2 separate regions of the Homo sapiens genome follow, and region 2 is linked to region 1. Evidence: fine-mapped QTL for protein levels in blood plasma. A gene starts in region 1. The other region holds a variant in brackets. All regions are shown on one strand. Distances are between the middles of the regions.

Region 1 (2,892 bases):
CTCTCCAGGACCTTCCTGACCGTGCGCTGGGCCTGTGCAGGTGTTGAGCCACACCCACACCATCCCAGGGGGCGGGGTCTCGAAGGGGAGAACAGGTGCCACAGTCAACAGGAGGGAGGGCTTCTGGCCGAGGTGGCAAGGAGGCTCCAGGAGGCGGCAGCGTTGACCTTGGGTGTTGAGGGATGATGAGAAGGAGTTCTGTAGGAAGGAAGGTGCTCCAGGCAGGGGGCCTCGGGGAACAAGGGGATGCTGGAGGAGGTGCGTGGACTGGGGGAATTGGGGGTGTCCTACGAGCCACGCTGGTATCAGAGGCGTGTGAACCAGAGCAGTTCCATACTGAATAAGAGCTGGGCAAAATGAGGTCGCGAGGAGGTGCGTGGAAGGCGGGCCTAGCGTTCAGTGGGATGCGGGGAGGCGCAGGAGACGCAGCCAGAGAGGCGAGGGGCCCAAGGAAGTGCTCAAGAGGTGTCCCCCGGCAGGGACTACAATGCAGATTCCCTGGAGCAGGGGCGAGCCGGGCCCAAGGAGCAGGAAATGAAGAAGCCAGGAATCCCAGCTGGTCCCTGACCCGGACGCACCCACCCTGCCTTCCCCACAGCCTGGCCTCTGGCTCTGCTCCCAACGCAGCAAGCCGGGGTATCTCCGACCTAGCCCTGGCCCTGCCCGCCGGAACCCCGCAAAAGCTATCACTCAGCCCTCGGCCCCGCCCCGGCCCCACCCCGGCCCCACCCCGCACTCTCACAAGGTGTCACTCAGCCCTCGGCCCCGCCCCGCCCGCCCCATCCTCCTCTGGCTCCGCCCCACCAGCCTCGTGCGGTCACCGCCCCGCCGGCGCACCTGCGCTGTCACTCAGCCCTCGGCCCCGGCCCCGCCCCGCCTGCCCCACTCGCACACGGGCTATCACTCAGCCTGCGCCCCGCCCTAGCTCGCCAGAGGCTCCGCCCCACCCGCCTGCCAACACGCTGTCACTCAGCCTTAGCCCTGCCCAGGCCGGCCCTCGGCCCGTCAGAGGCCTCCTTCGTGCTGTCACTCAGCCCTTGCCCCGCCCCCTCCCCGCCCCCCTCACACGTGCTGTCTCTGTCTCTGGCCCTGGCCCGCCCCGCGCACTTGCGCTGTCACTCAGCCTGGACGCGCTTCTTCGGGTCGCGGGTGCACTCCGGCCCGGCTCCCGCCTCGGCCCCGATGGACGCCGCGTTCCTCCTCGTCCTCGGGCTGTTGGCCCAGGTAAGGCATCGGCACCTGCGGGGGTCCCCGCTGCCTCCCTCGACGCTGCGGGACAGTGTCTTCAACTGCAGCCGCACAGGTCTCCCCCAGAACCACTGGCCCTGGTCGCCTTTGGGGGCCTGTGAGCGGAGTGGCTCCGGGTGGGTCCCTGGGCTGGGGGCAGCACCCCAGGGGTTGTGGGGAGTGAGTGTAACCAAACACTCCATCTGGTGGAATCACCCCCAGGACTGCAGAGTGCTGCTGGGGTCAGGGACCCCAGGCAGGGGCCACCCAGGTAGCCGTGCCCTCTCTTTGGAGGAACCGCTGCCGGGGTCTGGGGGTTGCCAGTCTTGAGTGGAGCAGAGAGAGGGGGGAGCGGCAGGAGTGCCCCTCTCTGGGGGGCTGGGGGCCAGGTTTCTATAGGGACTCCCTGCGGTGGGCACAGGACCCCTGGCTAGTCTTGGGTTTTGTCCAAACCCCCCACCCCAAGTTCCTGGCCAGCAGGGGTGGCTGCAGGCCCTGCCCCCAGGAACTCACCCTCACGGCTACTTCTCGATTGGGAGGGCCCAGCCCGAGCCAGGTCGCAACACACGGCCTTGCAGAGTGGCGTGTGGCAGCCCTGGGGGCTCTGTTCCTGGGCTTCACCTGGGACCCTGCCGCAGCTGCCTGGGGTGATCAGGCCTGGGGGCCCAGCCCCCAGAGGCTGCTGGACTCTGCCCCTAAAAATCTTGTCTGGACTGCTGGCACCGTGGTCTCTCCAACGTGGGAGCAAGCCAGAGTGGAAGGAAGCCCAGGCCTCAGCCCCCCACACCCGACATGGGTACTGCCTAGCTGGAGCCACGTCTCCTCACACCCTAGGGGGACCTAGACATGGAGGATGTGGCCTCAGTGGCTTCAGCCCCCAGGGACTGGGCTGGGCTGGGGCATGGCCGGCTGTGGTTGGGACGTCACTGGGTACAAGAGGGCAGCCTCTCTCTGGCCAATTCGAGAGAGAATGCACATAAAGGGCTTAGCGGTGCTCACAGTATTCATTGCTCTTGTGGTCCTGGGGTGGTCAGGGAGTGCTGGACACAGTGAGTAAGGGAAGCCACTCCTTTCCCAGCCCCCACTGAAGGGGCTTCCTGAGTCCCCTCATTCCCACAGGCCTCCCAGCTCCAGCTGGCTCCAATTTCAGCCCCTGGCAGCTGACCAGGCGCCTGGCCAGCCAGACCCTCCAGCAGCTGCCCCTGAGGGCACCACGGCTCCTGCCACCCCCGACTCCCCCATCTGGAGACAGTGGTGGGGGGAGACAGTGGCTCAGCATGCGTGCTCACCCCCCGGCCCTCCACCCCTCAGCCCTCTGCCGGGGAGCGCAGGCTGGGGGGCTCCATGCCTCCAGGGCCCTTCCCCACCTGCTCTGGGGACAGGGTTTCTTCCCTGGCACCCCAACCCAGGGCATGGTGGTGGGGAGGCTGGCGCCTGTGAAAACATTCCTCCAGACCTCTTCCTTTGGATTTGGGAGTGTCTGCCTTTCAAAAGGCCCCAGGGGGCTCTGTGGCAGGTGGGGAGGCAGGCAGGACCTCTCCCTCCTCAGAAGCCTTCCCTCTCACTGTCCCTTCTTTTCTCGCCCAGGGCTGGGGGACAATAACCCCCTCCCCCGACAGCTGGAGGCTGGGGGAGGTGGTGGAGGTGGGGGCCAGATGGCAAGGG
Region 2 (2,892 bases), 13 kb after region 1:
TTCCCTTAAGCAAGAATTCCAGAGGCCCCTCAGAGTCTAAAAATAAGTAAACAAGTCTCCGAGGCAGGTCCGTTTCCACAGGTCAACTCCTGCCACTTCCCATTCCAACATAAATTTCAAACCCAAAAATCTGAGCCTGGGAGTGGAGGTTTTTCAGGGGTCTTGTTCTCCCCCAAAAGCAAATGACTTCTCCCTCCTGCTGAGGGGGCCATCTGGAGCCAGGCACACTCCATCCTCACCCTGTACTCACATGGGGTCCAGAGCACCCACAGGCATCTCTAGGTTGTGATTCACCCTAAACCCAGGCTGACCTGTAAGCTCCAGCCACGGGGACTCGCTCCCACCTCCCTGGGGGCCGGTGGTAAAGACCTGGTGGAAAGGCACAGGCCCCCTCGTGTCTGAGGCTACCAAGGACTGTGGCCAGGCCTGGCCCAGGCTCAGGCTTGGAGGCTCATATCCCGCCTCAGTTTCCTTCCCGTGTCTGTGGCAGTGGCCTCCGCGCCTCGTTCTGCCCCAGGTGACAGACAGCACGTCCTAGCTCCAGCTGTCCCGGGGGGAAGTCACAGCCAGCCAGGAGCTGCTCCCCAGGGTGGCCCAAAGCCCGTCCTTCCCACCCCACCTCGGTGGCTAAGTCCACCTGAGCTGCCAGAGGGGTCAGGCCTAAATCTCAGGAGAGGGAAATGGGGGGAGGTGAAACCTGGTCCTGCCATATGTGGTCCCTCTAGCGGCACCTTCGTGAGTACCGCTTCCCACAGCAGGTGGGGCGGGGGCTCTGGCCTACACAGTCACAGTGCGCGTCCTCTGCTCGGCTGTCGTGTGTCCTGCACCCAGCCTGCCCGCGCATCCTCTGTTTTATCCTGCCCTTGCATCCTCTGTCTTATCCTGTCCGTGCGTCCTCTGTTTTATCCTTCCCCTGCGTCCTCTGCCCAGCCTGCCCGTGCGTCCTCTGTCTTATCCTGCCCGTGTGTCCTCTGTTCAGCCTGCCCATGCATCCTCTGTCACCCTGGATGCCAGCAGCTCCTGGAGGCCCCCGCTAGCTAGCCCAATCTGACCCAGCGCCCTTAGCCCCTGCACTGGGCAGGCCCAGGAGCCAGCACCTGACCCAGGTCGCATCCAATGCTCCTGTGCTCCGACCCCATAAACAGCACAAGCCGGGCAAAAGGCTTCGACCACATAGGTGGCCTGGACACAGCACGGTGGGCTTCAGGGGCAGCGGGAAGCATCTCGACCTGGGGGTTGCCGCATGCTGGCCGCCTCGGTGACGCAAACAGCAGCATGGACTGACTGCCCCATCTGGGGTCAGCCGTGCTGGAACCGGGGAGCCTGTGCACACGAGGTGCCCCCACGCCCCTCACAATGCCCCCAGCCCATCGGCCCTGTGGACGTTGGCCCTCACGCCTCCCTGTGCTTCCCAGGCACCTATGTGACCAGGGCAGAGGCCACAGATGCCGACGACCCCGAGACGGACAACGCAGCGCTGCGGTTCTCCATCCTGCAGCAGGGCAGCCCC[G/A]AGCTCTTCAGCATCGACGAGCTCACAGGAGAGATCCGCACAGTGCAAGTGGGGCTGGACCGCGAGGTGAGGTGGCGCCCCGGCAGCTCCACACCCGCACGGCCAGGGCAGCCCATCTCCTGCGGGTCCCTCTGCCCCCAGCCTGCCCACCCCAGACGCTCCTGTCCCTGCCGTCACTGCAGAGCTTGCAGTGGCCCTGGCTCCTGAGGAGATGGCATGGGGTGAACCCACTGATGCGCAGACAGGAGCCGCGCTGGCCCGGGTGGGAGGGGTCTGGTGCAAGTAGGGCGTGAGGGGCCCGGCACAGGGCAGGGCTCCCCAAGCAGCCCCGCCCCTCTCAGCCTCATGGCAACGGCTCCCCGCTGGTAAGTAACTAACTCCTTCTGTCAGGGCCCCTGTTGCCCCTTGCTGTCGGACTTCGGTGCTCCCGGAAGACCCCCCTTGAGTCAGCTCCTCTAGGAAGCCCTCCTGGTTACACTGTTACGTGGTCTTTGTCCATTTCTGTTCCTGCCACTAACCACGGTTCCCCAGGGCAGGGACCCAAGCTCACTGGTGTGCTAGGTGCCCAGCACAGAGTAGGTGCTCTGTAAATGCTTACCCAGCGCACAGTAGGTGCTCTGTAAACACCCAGCGCACAGTGGTGCTCTGTAAACGCTTATCCAGCACACAGTAGGTGCTCTGTAAACGCTTACCCAGCGCAGAGTAGGTGCTCTGTAAAGGCTTACCCAGCGCAGAGTAGGTGCTCTGTAAATGCTTACCCAGCGCACAGTAGGTGCTCTGTAAACACCCAGCGCACAGTGGTGCTCTGTAAACGCTTACCCAGCGCACAGTAGGTGCTCTGTAAAGGCTTACCCAGCGCACAGTAGGTGCTCTGTAAACGCTTACCCAGCACACAGTAGGTGCTCTGTAAACGCTTACCCAGCGCACAGTAGGTGCTCTGTGAACACCCAGCGCACAGTAGGTGCTCTGTAAACGCTCACCCAGTGCACAGTAGGTGCTCTGTAAACGCTCACCCAGCGCACAGTAGGTGCTCTGTAAACGCTCACCCAGCGCACAGTAGGTGCTCTGTAAAGGCTCACCCAGCGCACAGAAGGTGCTCTGTAAAGGCTCACCCAGCGCACAGTAGGTGCTCTGTAAACGCTCACCCAGCGCACAGTAGGTGCTCTGTAAAGGCTCACCCAGCGCACAGAAGGTGCTCTGTAAAGGCCCACCCAGCGCACAGTAGGTGCTCTGTAAACGCTTACCCAGCGCACAGTAGGTGCTCTGTAAACGCTTACCCAGCGCACAGTAGGTGCTCTGTGAACACCCAGCGCACAGTAGGTGCTCTGTAAACGCTCACCCAGCGCACAGTAGGTGCTCTGTAAACGCTCACCCAGCGCACA

The links. A credible set is the group of variants that fine-mapping cannot tell apart. PIP is the posterior inclusion probability: the model's chance that the variant is causal. The UK Biobank Pharma Proteomics Project read protein levels with antibody pairs (Olink). The fine-mapping took linkage between variants from a reference panel, not from the people measured, so its PIPs are less certain.
Region 2: its variant is the best candidate, but not a certain one, in a credible set for the plasma level of the CDH15 protein (UK Biobank, PIP 0.71). The variant lies in the coding sequence of CDH15. If it changes the protein, the assay may bind it differently, which can mimic a change of level.

What each region holds. Positions count from the first base shown.
Region 1 is chr16:89,170,650-89,173,541 of GRCh38, forward strand. It overlaps CDH15 (cadherin 15), which reads left to right and starts at 1,099. Exons shown (of 14, transcript NM_004933.3): 1 at 1,099-1,224. The coding sequence starts at 1,183. RefSeq lists a silencer at 535-1,174.
Region 2 is chr16:89,183,758-89,186,649 of GRCh38, forward strand. It overlaps CDH15 (cadherin 15), which reads left to right. Exons shown (of 14, transcript NM_004933.3): 5 at 1,416-1,576. Among named protein-coding and RNA genes, the nearest start is that of CDH15, 13 kb to the left of the region's middle. RefSeq lists a silencer at 1,624-1,918. The variant G/A (reference allele first, on the strand shown) is at 1,511.